2 separate regions of the Homo sapiens genome follow, and region 2 is linked to region 1. Evidence: fine-mapped expression QTL. Tissue or cell type: whole blood. Region 1 holds a variant in brackets; the other region holds the start of a gene. All regions are shown on one strand. Distances are between the middles of the regions.

Region 1 (5,382 bases):
TGGTACTAGAACAAGTTAAAACCTTTTGGGGCTATTGGGATGGAGTGAAGGTATATTGTATGAGTTTTGGTGGACCAGAGGCAGTTTGGATGTCCTCTCCAAAATCATGTTGAAATGTAATTGCCACTGTGACAGTATTAAGAGGTGGGACAAGTAACAGTTGATTAGGCCATGAGGGCTCTGCCCTCATAAATGGGTTAATGTCATTATTGCAGGAGTGTGTTCATTATCACTTGTGCAGACTGTTAGAAAAGCGAGTTCAGGGCCAGGCATGGTGGCTCATGCCTGTAATCCCAGCAATTTGCGAGGCTGAGGCGGGCAGATCACGAGGTCAAGAGATTGAGACCATCCTGGCCAACATGGTGAAACCCTGTCTTTACTAAAAATACAAAAAATTAGCCGGGTGTGGTGGCATGCACCTGTAGTCCCAGCTACTCAGGAGGCTGAGGCAGGAGAATCACTTGAACCCAGGAGGCAGAGATTGCAGTGAGCCGAGATCTCGCCATTGCATTCCAGCCTGGTGAGAGACTGAGACTCTGTCTCAAAAAAGTAAATAAACAAATAAAAAATAAATGAAATAAAATAAAATAAAAATGAAAATAAAAAAGCGAGTTTGGGCCAGGTGTGGTGGCTCACGCCTGTAATCCCAGCACTTTGGGAGGCCGAGGCGGGCAGATCACAAGGTCAGGAGATCAAGACTTTCCTGGCTAACATGGTGAAACCTGTCTGCAATTATAAAAATACAAAAAATTAGCCAGGCATGGTGGCACGTGCATGTAGTCCCAGCTACTTGGGAGGCTGAAGTTGGAGAACTGCTTGAACCCGGGAGGTGGAGGTTGCAGCGAGCTGAGATTGTGCCACTGCACTCAAGCCTGGGACAGAGCAAGACTCTGTCTCCAAAAAAATAAATAAATAATAAAAATAAAAATAAAATAAAGCGAGTTTGGCCCTCTCTGTCTCTGTCTCTTGCTCTCACCCTTGCTTGCCCTTCCACCTCCTGCCATTGGATGACACAGCTTGAAGGCCTTTGCCAAATTCAGGCCCCCTCGACCTTGAACTTCCCAGCATCCAGAATGATAAGGAATCGATTTTTTTTCTTTATACGGTACCCAGTCTTGAACCAAGTACAGTGGCTCATGCCTGTAATTCCAGCACTTTGGGAGGGCAAGGTGGAAGGATCACTTGAGCCTTGGAGTTTGAGGCTGCAGTGAGCTGTGATCACATCACTGCACTCCAGTGGGGATGACATATTGAGAACCTGTCTAAAAAAAGCAAAAAAAAAAAAAAAAAAAAAAAAGGACCCAGTCTGGGATTCTGTTACAGCAACACAAAACAGACTAAGACAGCTGTGGGCAACATGACTCCAGGTCACAGTACTCTAATGTGATACTTAACTGTAGACTCTTGCTACTTCAGTGCTGCAGTGCTTTCACTTTAGCAACTTAGCAAAAAATGTATTGTTTTCTCTATTTAAATCAGGTGTAAATCTCATCATCAAGAATTTGTGACTTGGCTGGGTGCAGTGGCTCTTGCCTGTAATCCCAGCACTTTGGGAGGCCAAGGCAGGCAGATCACTCAAGGGCAGGAGTTCAAGACCAGCCTGGCCAACATGGTAAAACCTCATCTCTACTAAAAATACAATAATTAGCCAGGCATGGTGGCGTGTGCCTGTAGTCCCAGCTACTGAGGAGGCTGAGGTAGGAGAATCGCTTGAACCCGGGAGGAGGAGGTTGCAGTGAGCTGAGACGTGCTACTGCACTCTAGCCTGGGAGACAGAGCAAGACTCCAACTAAAAAAAAAAGAATATGTGACTTAATTGAATATTATTATTATTATTTATCTTTTAGAGACAAGGTCTCACTCTGTCGCCTAGGGTGGAGTACAGTAGCACAATCATAGCTCACTAAGCCTTGAATTCCTGGGCTTGAGTGATCCTCCCACCTTGACCTCCCAAAGTGTTGGGATTACAGGCATGAGCCAATGCAGACTGGCCAATTATTACTTTTTTAAGCCTCAGTGTTGCAAACTGACGAAGCCAAACAAATCAAAAAGGACAGGGAAGAAGTCTTAATTTATATCAACCAAAAATCATCTTTTCTACCCTCTTTCTTCTCATCCTTTATACCCTCCAAGCCAAAGACAGTAATTGCCAGTGCTGGGTAATTTCATATAATAGAGAAGTGTAGCACAATTGCACTCTTGAACCGAAACTACAACCAAGTGGTTACATTTACATATTGATATTGCAGTAGAACTTATATAACAGGCTGGAATTTCTTTTCAAACATCTGTGACTCAGGGTAAACTACGGGAAGTTAGAAAAAAGTTATTTCCGTGTTTTCAAAATAGAGAAACAGAACGGTCTGTTGGATTTGCCTTTAGAATTGACACCACTTCCCAGCACTAATCTCAACTATAAGAGAAAAAACAAATTGGCTAGACATGGTAGCTCATTCCTGTAATCCCAGCACTTTGGGAGGCTGAGGTGGGAAGTTTGCTTGAGCCCAGGAGGTCAAGCCTTCATTGAGCTATTATCATGAAACTGCACTCCAGCCTGGGTGACAAAGTGAGACCTTGTCTCTAAAAAAAAATTAAATAAAAATAAAATAAAATAAATGAAATAATTCATAATTAAAAGTTGCTTCAGGAGGAAATTGGGTGAAGGGTACAAAGGACCGCTCTGTATTATCTTTGCAACTTCCTGTGAATCTATAATTATTCCAAAATCAAAAGTTTAAAAAAAAATTCCTTCAGTAAGAGAAATGGGCTTTTGACCTTGGAAAGAATTACCATTGTATGCTAGAATTTACTAGAAGAATAAGGGAAGGGATGTCTGTAGTCAGACTTTTGTCATTTTCTTTCAGTTTTTTTTGAGACAGAGTCTCACTCTGTTGCCCAGGCTGGAGTGCAGTGGCAGGATCTCGGCTCACTGCAACCTCCACCTCCTGGGTTCAAGCGATTCTCCTGCCTCAGCCTCCCGAGTAGCTGGGACTACAGGCGTGTGCCACCATGGCTGGCTAACTTTTTGTATTTTTAGTAGAGA[A/C]GGGGTTTCACTGTGTTAGCCAGGATGGTCTCGATCTCCTAACCTCGTGATCTGCCCGCCTTGGCCTCCCAAAGTGCTGGGATTACAGGCGTGAGCCACCGCGCCCGGCCAACTTTTGTCATTTTCAAAGAGTGAATTTGGTGTCCTTGGAGGGTCACTTAAATCAGTGGCAGTGAGTAGGAAAAAAGTGTTAGAATGCTCCATCAAAAGTATGCTCCCTTTTCCAACTCAAGACATAAAATCAGAAGCAATAATCAAGGAGTACCAACTATATATTTTGGTGTTACTTAAACGTTTTCTTTTAGTAATAGAAATAATAGCTGTTCATGGCCTGGTGTGGTGACTGAAGCCTGTAATCCCAGTACTTTGGGAGGCTGGTGCAGGCAGATCCCTTGAGTCCAGGAGTTTGAGACCAGCCTTAGCAAAATGGCAGAACCCTGTCTCTACAAAAAACTTGCCAGGTATAGTGACACACACCTATAGTCCCAGGTGCTCAGGAGGCTGAGATGGGAGGATCATTTGAGCCTGGGAGGTTGAGGCTGCAGTGAGCTGAGATCACACCACTGCATTCCAGCCTGGACAACAGAGCAAGACCCTGTCTCTTAAAAAAAAAAAAAAAAAGAAAGAAAGAAAAGGAAAGGAAAGGAAAGAAAAAGAAAAAGAAAAAATATGTGTTAATTATAAGAAAATTTGGTGAATATTGAAAATTATAAATTAATCCAATTTATCCATAATTTGAAACTGAGCAAAAACTAATGTTGATATTTTGGTATATTTTTTCAGTTATTATTGCTATATACATGTTTTTGTATAAAATTGGCATTAAAACTTTTTTCTTTACCTCTCTTTGAAAGGCACATACTTCATTTTCATTTTGTGAGTTTACCTTTACGTTTAGTGAGTTTTTCCCAAATAAAAAATAATATTTGTGACTGATTATGCCTCTATTATGTGGCTATATCATAATTTAATTAATCATATAATTATTGTATTTATAAATTTTCCCTAATATAAATAATTGGTACATACAAAATTTTCATTCATTAATCATTGTGTGCATCTTTAGGATCTAAGTCAAAGAGTTTTAATGCTCTTAGTACACACTGACAATTTGTCTTGCAGAAAGGGTGTACTAACCAAATATCTACTTTATTTAAAATTTAAAATTCTGCTACCTAAGTTCTCTCCATTTTGCCTCCTCAAAGTATATTTTTACATGCGCATCCCATAGCTCTTTTATATGAGAGGAATACTACTCACCTCAAAAAGTCAACTATGGGTGACTAGAAAATAACTTCTAATTACACTCATGCATTGCTTAACGATAGGGATACATTCTGAGAAATGCATCCTTAGATGATTTTGTCATTTTGCAAACATCATAGAAAGTACTTACACAAACCTAGATGGAGTAGCTTAGTACAACCTAGGCTGTAAGGTATGGCCTATTGCTCCTAGGCTACAAGCCTATACTGCATGGCACTGTACTAAATACTGTAGGCAATTATAACATAATGGTAAGTACGTGTGTATCTAAACATAGAAAAAGTACAATAAAAATACAGTATAAAATATTTAAAAATGGTATACATGTATAAGGCACTTACCATGAATGGGGCTTGCGGGACTGAAAGTTGCTCTGCTCTGGGTGAGTCAGTGAGTGGTGAGTGAATGTGAAAGCCTAGGACATTACTGTGCACTACTACAGACTTATAAACACTATACACTTAGGCTACGCTAAATTTATAAAAGTATTTCTTATTTCAATAATAAATTAAGCTTAGCTTGCTGATACTTTTTTTTTTTTTTTTTTGAGACGGAGTCTCGCTCTGTTGCCCAGGTTGGAGTGCAGTGGCGCGATCTCAACTCACTGCAAGCTCCGCCTCCTGGGTTCACTCCATTCTCCTGCCTCAGCCTGCCGAGTAGCTGGGACTACAGGCACCCACCACAACGCCCGGCTAATTTTATGTATTTTTGGTAGAGAGGGGGTTTCACAATGTTAGCCAGGATGGTCTCAATCTCCTGACCTCGTGATCCGCCCTCCTCAGTCTCCCAAAGTGCTGGGATTACAGGCGTAAGCCACGGCGCCCGGCCTACTGTAACTTTTTTACTTTGTATACTTTTAAATTATTTTTAAACTTTTTGACTCTTTTGTAGTAACACTTAGCTTAAAACGCAGACACACTGTACAGCTATATAAAAATATTTTCTTGCGGGCACGGTGATCGAGACCATCCTGGCTAACACGATAAAACCCCGTCTCTACTAAAACTACAAAAAATTAGCTGGAGCGGTGGCACGTGCCTGTAGTCCCAGCTACTTGGGAGGTTGAGGCAGGA
Region 2 (5,382 bases), 21 kb after region 1:
CAGGGTAGCTCACTGAGTACAGCATTCAGATTCATCCAATGTAGGACCAAGAGCAGAGCTTCTCTGAACTTGATCATAGTGAAGCAAAACACCCTGCAAAAGAAACTGTAACTAAACTCCTAGAAAAGCAATGACCACTTTCTCCTCTCCTATGATTCTGACTAGCGTGTGGGATGGGGTGAGGTATGCAGGTTATTTGCATAAAACAAGCAGCCAAGTGCATTCACTCATTTATTTGTTCGTGGAGTACCTAGCAAATGCAAGGTGCTCTGTTAAACACTATGGCAGACACAAAGATGAAACGGACAAGGATTTTGTCTTCAAAGGTTCTCTAGTAGGGACCCCACTATGCTCTCTTAATAGAGTAGGATTTGAGAACATGGGCCTAATGAGTTAGAAATCTAATTATCAGCCAGTGGCACCCAAACAAAAGATCATGGGGCTTAATCCTCAGAAGTAGGATACATCTCTACAATTGTCTACACAAACCAGCAGGCATCAGAAATGTTAATAGCATACCCCTTCACCTTTCTCTCTGCCTCCCTTCCCAGTCTCTCTCTTTTGTTCTTCGTGGATTTCATTATCATTGGAAAAATCATGAATTGCTGGATCACTTAGATGCATTAGTGTGCTCTTATGAAATCATTCCTGATGACAAAATTCTTTTAATCAGCTCCACTTTCAGATTTTCAGTATAGGCTTGTCCTTTAACAAGTAAGTTTTTTTTTTTTTTTCCAGAACAATATGGAGCAGGTATGGCAAAACAGAAATACAATATTCTTGGAAGTAGATTCGTTTGGATAATAATTAAACTTTCCTTTTTCTGTACTTGGACTTTATTCTTCTAGTAATTTCTTTGTCTACATTAAATTTTCAGGAAGATTGACGATATCATTCTTTTAAACTCTTTAAAAGACAGTCAAATTCTTGTTACATCTTTTCAGGTTTTGTATTTTATGTTTAGGAGCTGTTCATTTATATTTCCCCTCATCTTTTCTGGAATAGACTATCTCATTGCTTCCCACTGTGTTTTCCTAAATACCAGCAACTTGTTTTTCAACAAATAATCTTAACCCAACAACCAGCTCTCAAAGCTTTATAACATCTGGTAAATGCTAGTGCACAGGAACAAGGCAGAAAAGAATCTAAAGAAAGAATATGGGGCCGGGATCGGTGGCTCACGCCTGTAATTCCAGCACTTTGGGAGGCCGAGGTGGGCGGATCACCTGAGGTCAGCAGATTGAGACCAGCCTGGTCAACACGGTGAAACCCCGTGTCTACTAAAAATACAAAAAATCAGCCGGGCGTGGTGGCTTGTGCCTGTAATCCCAGACTTGGGAGGCTGAGACACGAGAATCGCTTGAATCCTGGAGGTGGAGGTTGCAGTGAGCTGACATCACATCACTGCACAGTGACTCCGTCTCAAAACAAAAAAACAAACAAAAAAAAGAAAGAATGTGGGCTTTGGAGTTGATCCAATCTGATGTCATGCAGGGCTCTACCAATACCTTCGTGACTCCGATAAATTAATCTTACCAGGGCATCAGTTTGCTTATCTGTAAAATGGGGATAAAATTCACACTTCAAGGTAATTATGAGGATTAAGTACAGTATAAGAAAGCAGAGAGCATGGTCCGTAATAGGCACTCTTTAACAATTTCCCTTTGCTTCCTCCGAAAAACGACAATCATAAAACTCAGGATTTAATCATTAAAACATAAATAGTTACAGATGCAAAACACTCATGTCCCAACGAGCTCTTCTGACACTTTGATATGCAGAATATTTGGCATTTCTTTCTTCTTAATGGAAAAATGCTCCTAATATTAGTAAAAATGAAAATTTTGGGGGAAAAATTATCCACAGTTTCTTTATCTGTGGATAAAGAAAATAGAAACAGCTGCTTCTATTTTTGTCACGGCCTGGCTTTTATACAAAACGGTCACATTTTCCCCACAGTCACAAACAGGGTGTGTTTATCATGGCATCACCTCTTTCAAGGGACTAATAGATTTATTCCAGGTGATAGTGGGAAGCAGCTACAGAAGGAGGATTGGAAGGCTGAGGGGTTGTTAAAGTTATCTGATGATATTGTTCGAACATTTCTCCGGCACAGAAACTCCACAAAGAACTCCTCTGCAGTTTTCGCTACCCAGGGCTGTTTCTTTAAATTGTTTGACGTCAGAGAAGGAATGCTATAGCAACAGTCTGTCAAACTGGAATTAACTCAGAAGAAAAATGGGGGTGGGGAGAGGAAAAATGCTCCCAGGCGGTACTGACTTCAGAGGAAGCAAATTGGATAGATGCATTTATTTTATGACATTTTAAACATAAAACACCCAGATAAATGTGAAAAAAAAAAAAACTCGATTGAGATGCATGTGGTGTTTAACTCATGCAGAGAAGAGCGACTTGGCAGGGATATCTGGAAGGCCTTCCAGTTTTATCAATGACAATAGGAACAATAACTTCCAAGTATTGGCCATTTATTTGGAGGCAGGCTTCGTGCAAACATCACTTCATTTAATATGCTTAGCACCTTTATGAGGCAGGTATCAGTATCTTTATTTTGGCGATGACGAAACTTAGGCCCGAGACGGTACACGGTCCTACAACTAGTGATGGAAGAGCGGGGACTGCAACGCAAGGTTGTGCAACTCTGGGCTTCAGTTTACTTTCTGACATTTAGAATTCCAGAATGGGAAACCTAAATGGGGCCTTTGGGGTCTTCTAGCTCTGCCCTTCGATCCTGCTAACAAGCAAACTGGCGCCTGTCAGCGCCGGAAAGGAAACTGGCCACGCCACTTAGACGGGCGCTACTTAGCAGCGTGCCCCGGCGCCACACCAACAAGAAAACGAAACTGCCCGGGAATGAATGTTTTTCTTCTCCTTCTGGCAGGAAACGAGAGAGAAAATAGGAAGCAGAAGCTGCGCGCGGCGCCCGCTCCCTTCGCCCCCCGCCCGGGCTGCGCGCGCTCCGAGGGTCTGCGCGTCCCCGGCACGTCCCCGCCGGGCCCGCGCGCCTCGTGCCTCGCGCCTCGCGCCTCCAGCCACGTCCCCGCCCCGGCTCCGGCGCGCCGCGGAGTTGGCTGCTGGGAGGTGCGGGACTGGGTGTGGCCGGCGGCTCTGGTCTCGGCTGTGAGCTGCGCTCTCCACGCCGGCTCCGCGCTCCAGGGGCTGCTGAGCGCCCAGCGGACACCGGCAGCGCGCGGTCGACGCGGGCCTGAGCTCCCTCCAGGTAGGCGGCGAGCTCGCGAGCGGCGGCTCGTCGGTGCGCCCCGCGAAGCGATCCCGGGCTTCTCGCAGGGACGTGGGGCGCCGCGAGCCACCCCTGCGGAACGGGGCCCGGGTGACGGCGCGGGGCGGGGCGGGTCTCCCCGGGCTCGGGCGGCCGACGCTGCCCGGGAGGGACGAGGAGGGCGCGCCTGTGTCGCGCCCAGCTGCCACGCGGGAACTGGCCCCACGACCGCCGGCGCAGGCACTTCCCGGGCGGTCCAGACCGCTCGCCCCGGGGAGCGAGGAACGGTCGGCGGTCCAAGTCCTGCAGACCCCCCTGGTTTCTCGTCACTCCCCGAGGCCTCCTTCCAGGAACTCAGAGCACGAGCCCGTGCGTGCCCCCAAAATAACGGGTATTCGGGACTGCCCAGCAGGGCTGTTGGGTGGAGAGTGCTTGGAAGACTCATAAAAGTTCTACGCTGAGTCCAAAATTAGTCCAATGGTTTTGTTTCAGATTTATTTTGGAAATGATATAATGTCCAGAGTTTGGGGATGGGAGGGGATTGATGAATTTTGAATACTTGTGAGTTCAGTACAATAAAAAGTGTTTTGCTTTTCTCTCCACCTTTTTCTGCTTCAGAACACAGATGATTGCCATATACTTTGATATGTATTGCTATTCGCTAAGGGAACGTTGAATTTTCAAAAGTTTGAAACCAGGCTTTCATTTGTTTATACAAGCAATACTTTGTTATTTTTCGTCTCCTTGTGTTCCCTTTTCTCCCACTCCTTCCCTTTCTCTTTCCATAAAGGATAAGGATGCATCTTTCTCCCTCTCAGCCACCGACAAAGTAGCTTGGCGTGTGGCTTAGCGGGAAGTTTTCTTAAAACGTTCAAAATTTAATTGTTGATTAGAACTTTTATTATGAGTCCGTCTCAGTGTTGCAAACAGAGTTTATGACCATTAAGTACATCTTCTAGGACAGAGACAGAACACACGCTACTTAATTTAAGATGGGAGGGAAGTTATTTCTAGTCGGAGAGGAGGACGGCTGATTAGGTGCATTCAAAATTGTGTGCTTCGAGTCTCTGCCATTGTTCATTTTAATACTCTTCAGTTTGGGGCTTTTGGTTTACTACTGATCCTAGGCTCTGAAAATTTACTGTATATTTCAGTATGTGGCTTAAAGACATTTTAAGATTTTCCATGTTGCATTTTGGTTTGTAGATGAATTTGAAACTGAAATAGAAACTTTTAAAATATCATCTTATTGAACGTTGTCAACCCTCTGTATATACATTTATAAAACTGATTGATACAGCTTGTGATATTTTAGGTTGGTTCAACTCTTTGTGGGCCCATAAACATTATTTAGGAAGTTATTCCGAGTCTTTGGCCTTTGTTAACCTGTAGAATTGTTTCTTTTAAACAATTGGCATGTAAGTATGTCAGCACATACTTTTACACTTTAAAAATAGACTCTGGGGCAATTTGAAAATTAAGAATTGGAACTAAGTGTTGGACATTCTTCTGGCCTTACCAAATACTGCCTGAGATGGTGTGATTTCTCTTAGGCATGTTATTGAAGTCAGCTGGCTGTATCATCAGTTTCTTTACCTTGCTGACTATTTTAATCTGCGTCTGTTATGGACTTATTTATTAAAATATCTCTTCTGGGCTGGGGCAGTGCTGTAAGTTATTCTACTTATATCTCACAGTAACACCATTATCTACTTCCACAGGTAAGGAAATTGTCTGTGAGGTTTTAAGTAACTTGGCAGTGGTCATGTAGGTGTTAGGTAACTCAACTGGGATTCGAAGCAAGACCCCTCTGTTTCCAAAGTCCATGTTCTTTCCCCTGAGCCATATTAACTTAGTTCGAGGGCATGAGGAGTGACCCTCAATTACTCATTAGCATGTGTGTAAAATATCCAAGACATGCCAGAAGCATGTTTGTTTTTCCAGCATGATCATTATTGTCTGTCCCATGTTTTTATACAGCTTCTCACATCAGCCATTCTCTTCTCACCACTCTACTCCTAGTTAAATGTCTTGTTCCAAGTTCAAAACCTCCCTTTTGCCAGGGCACAGTGTATCCTATTGATATTAATAGGTAGTGATGGCTTAATTATCTTGATAAAACAGTAACTCCATTTTAATGTGGG

The links. PIP is the estimated chance that this variant, and not a neighbour inherited with it, causes the effect.
Region 2: it holds the start of GNB4, and the variant in region 1 is fine-mapped to the expression of GNB4 in whole blood (INTERVAL, PIP 0.99).

The regions. Positions count from the first base shown.
Region 1 is chr3:179,470,653-179,476,034 of GRCh38, reverse strand. It overlaps a transcript of GNB4 not described here. Among named protein-coding and RNA genes, the nearest start is that of GNB4, 22 kb to the right of the region's middle. The variant A/C (reference allele first, on the strand shown) is at 3,044.
Region 2 is chr3:179,449,202-179,454,583 of GRCh38, reverse strand. It overlaps GNB4 (G protein subunit beta 4), which reads left to right and starts at 3,114. Exons shown (of 10, transcript NM_021629.4): 1 at 3,114-3,238. It also overlaps the pseudogene RPL29P34. RefSeq lists silencers at 2,944-3,093, 3,134-3,543.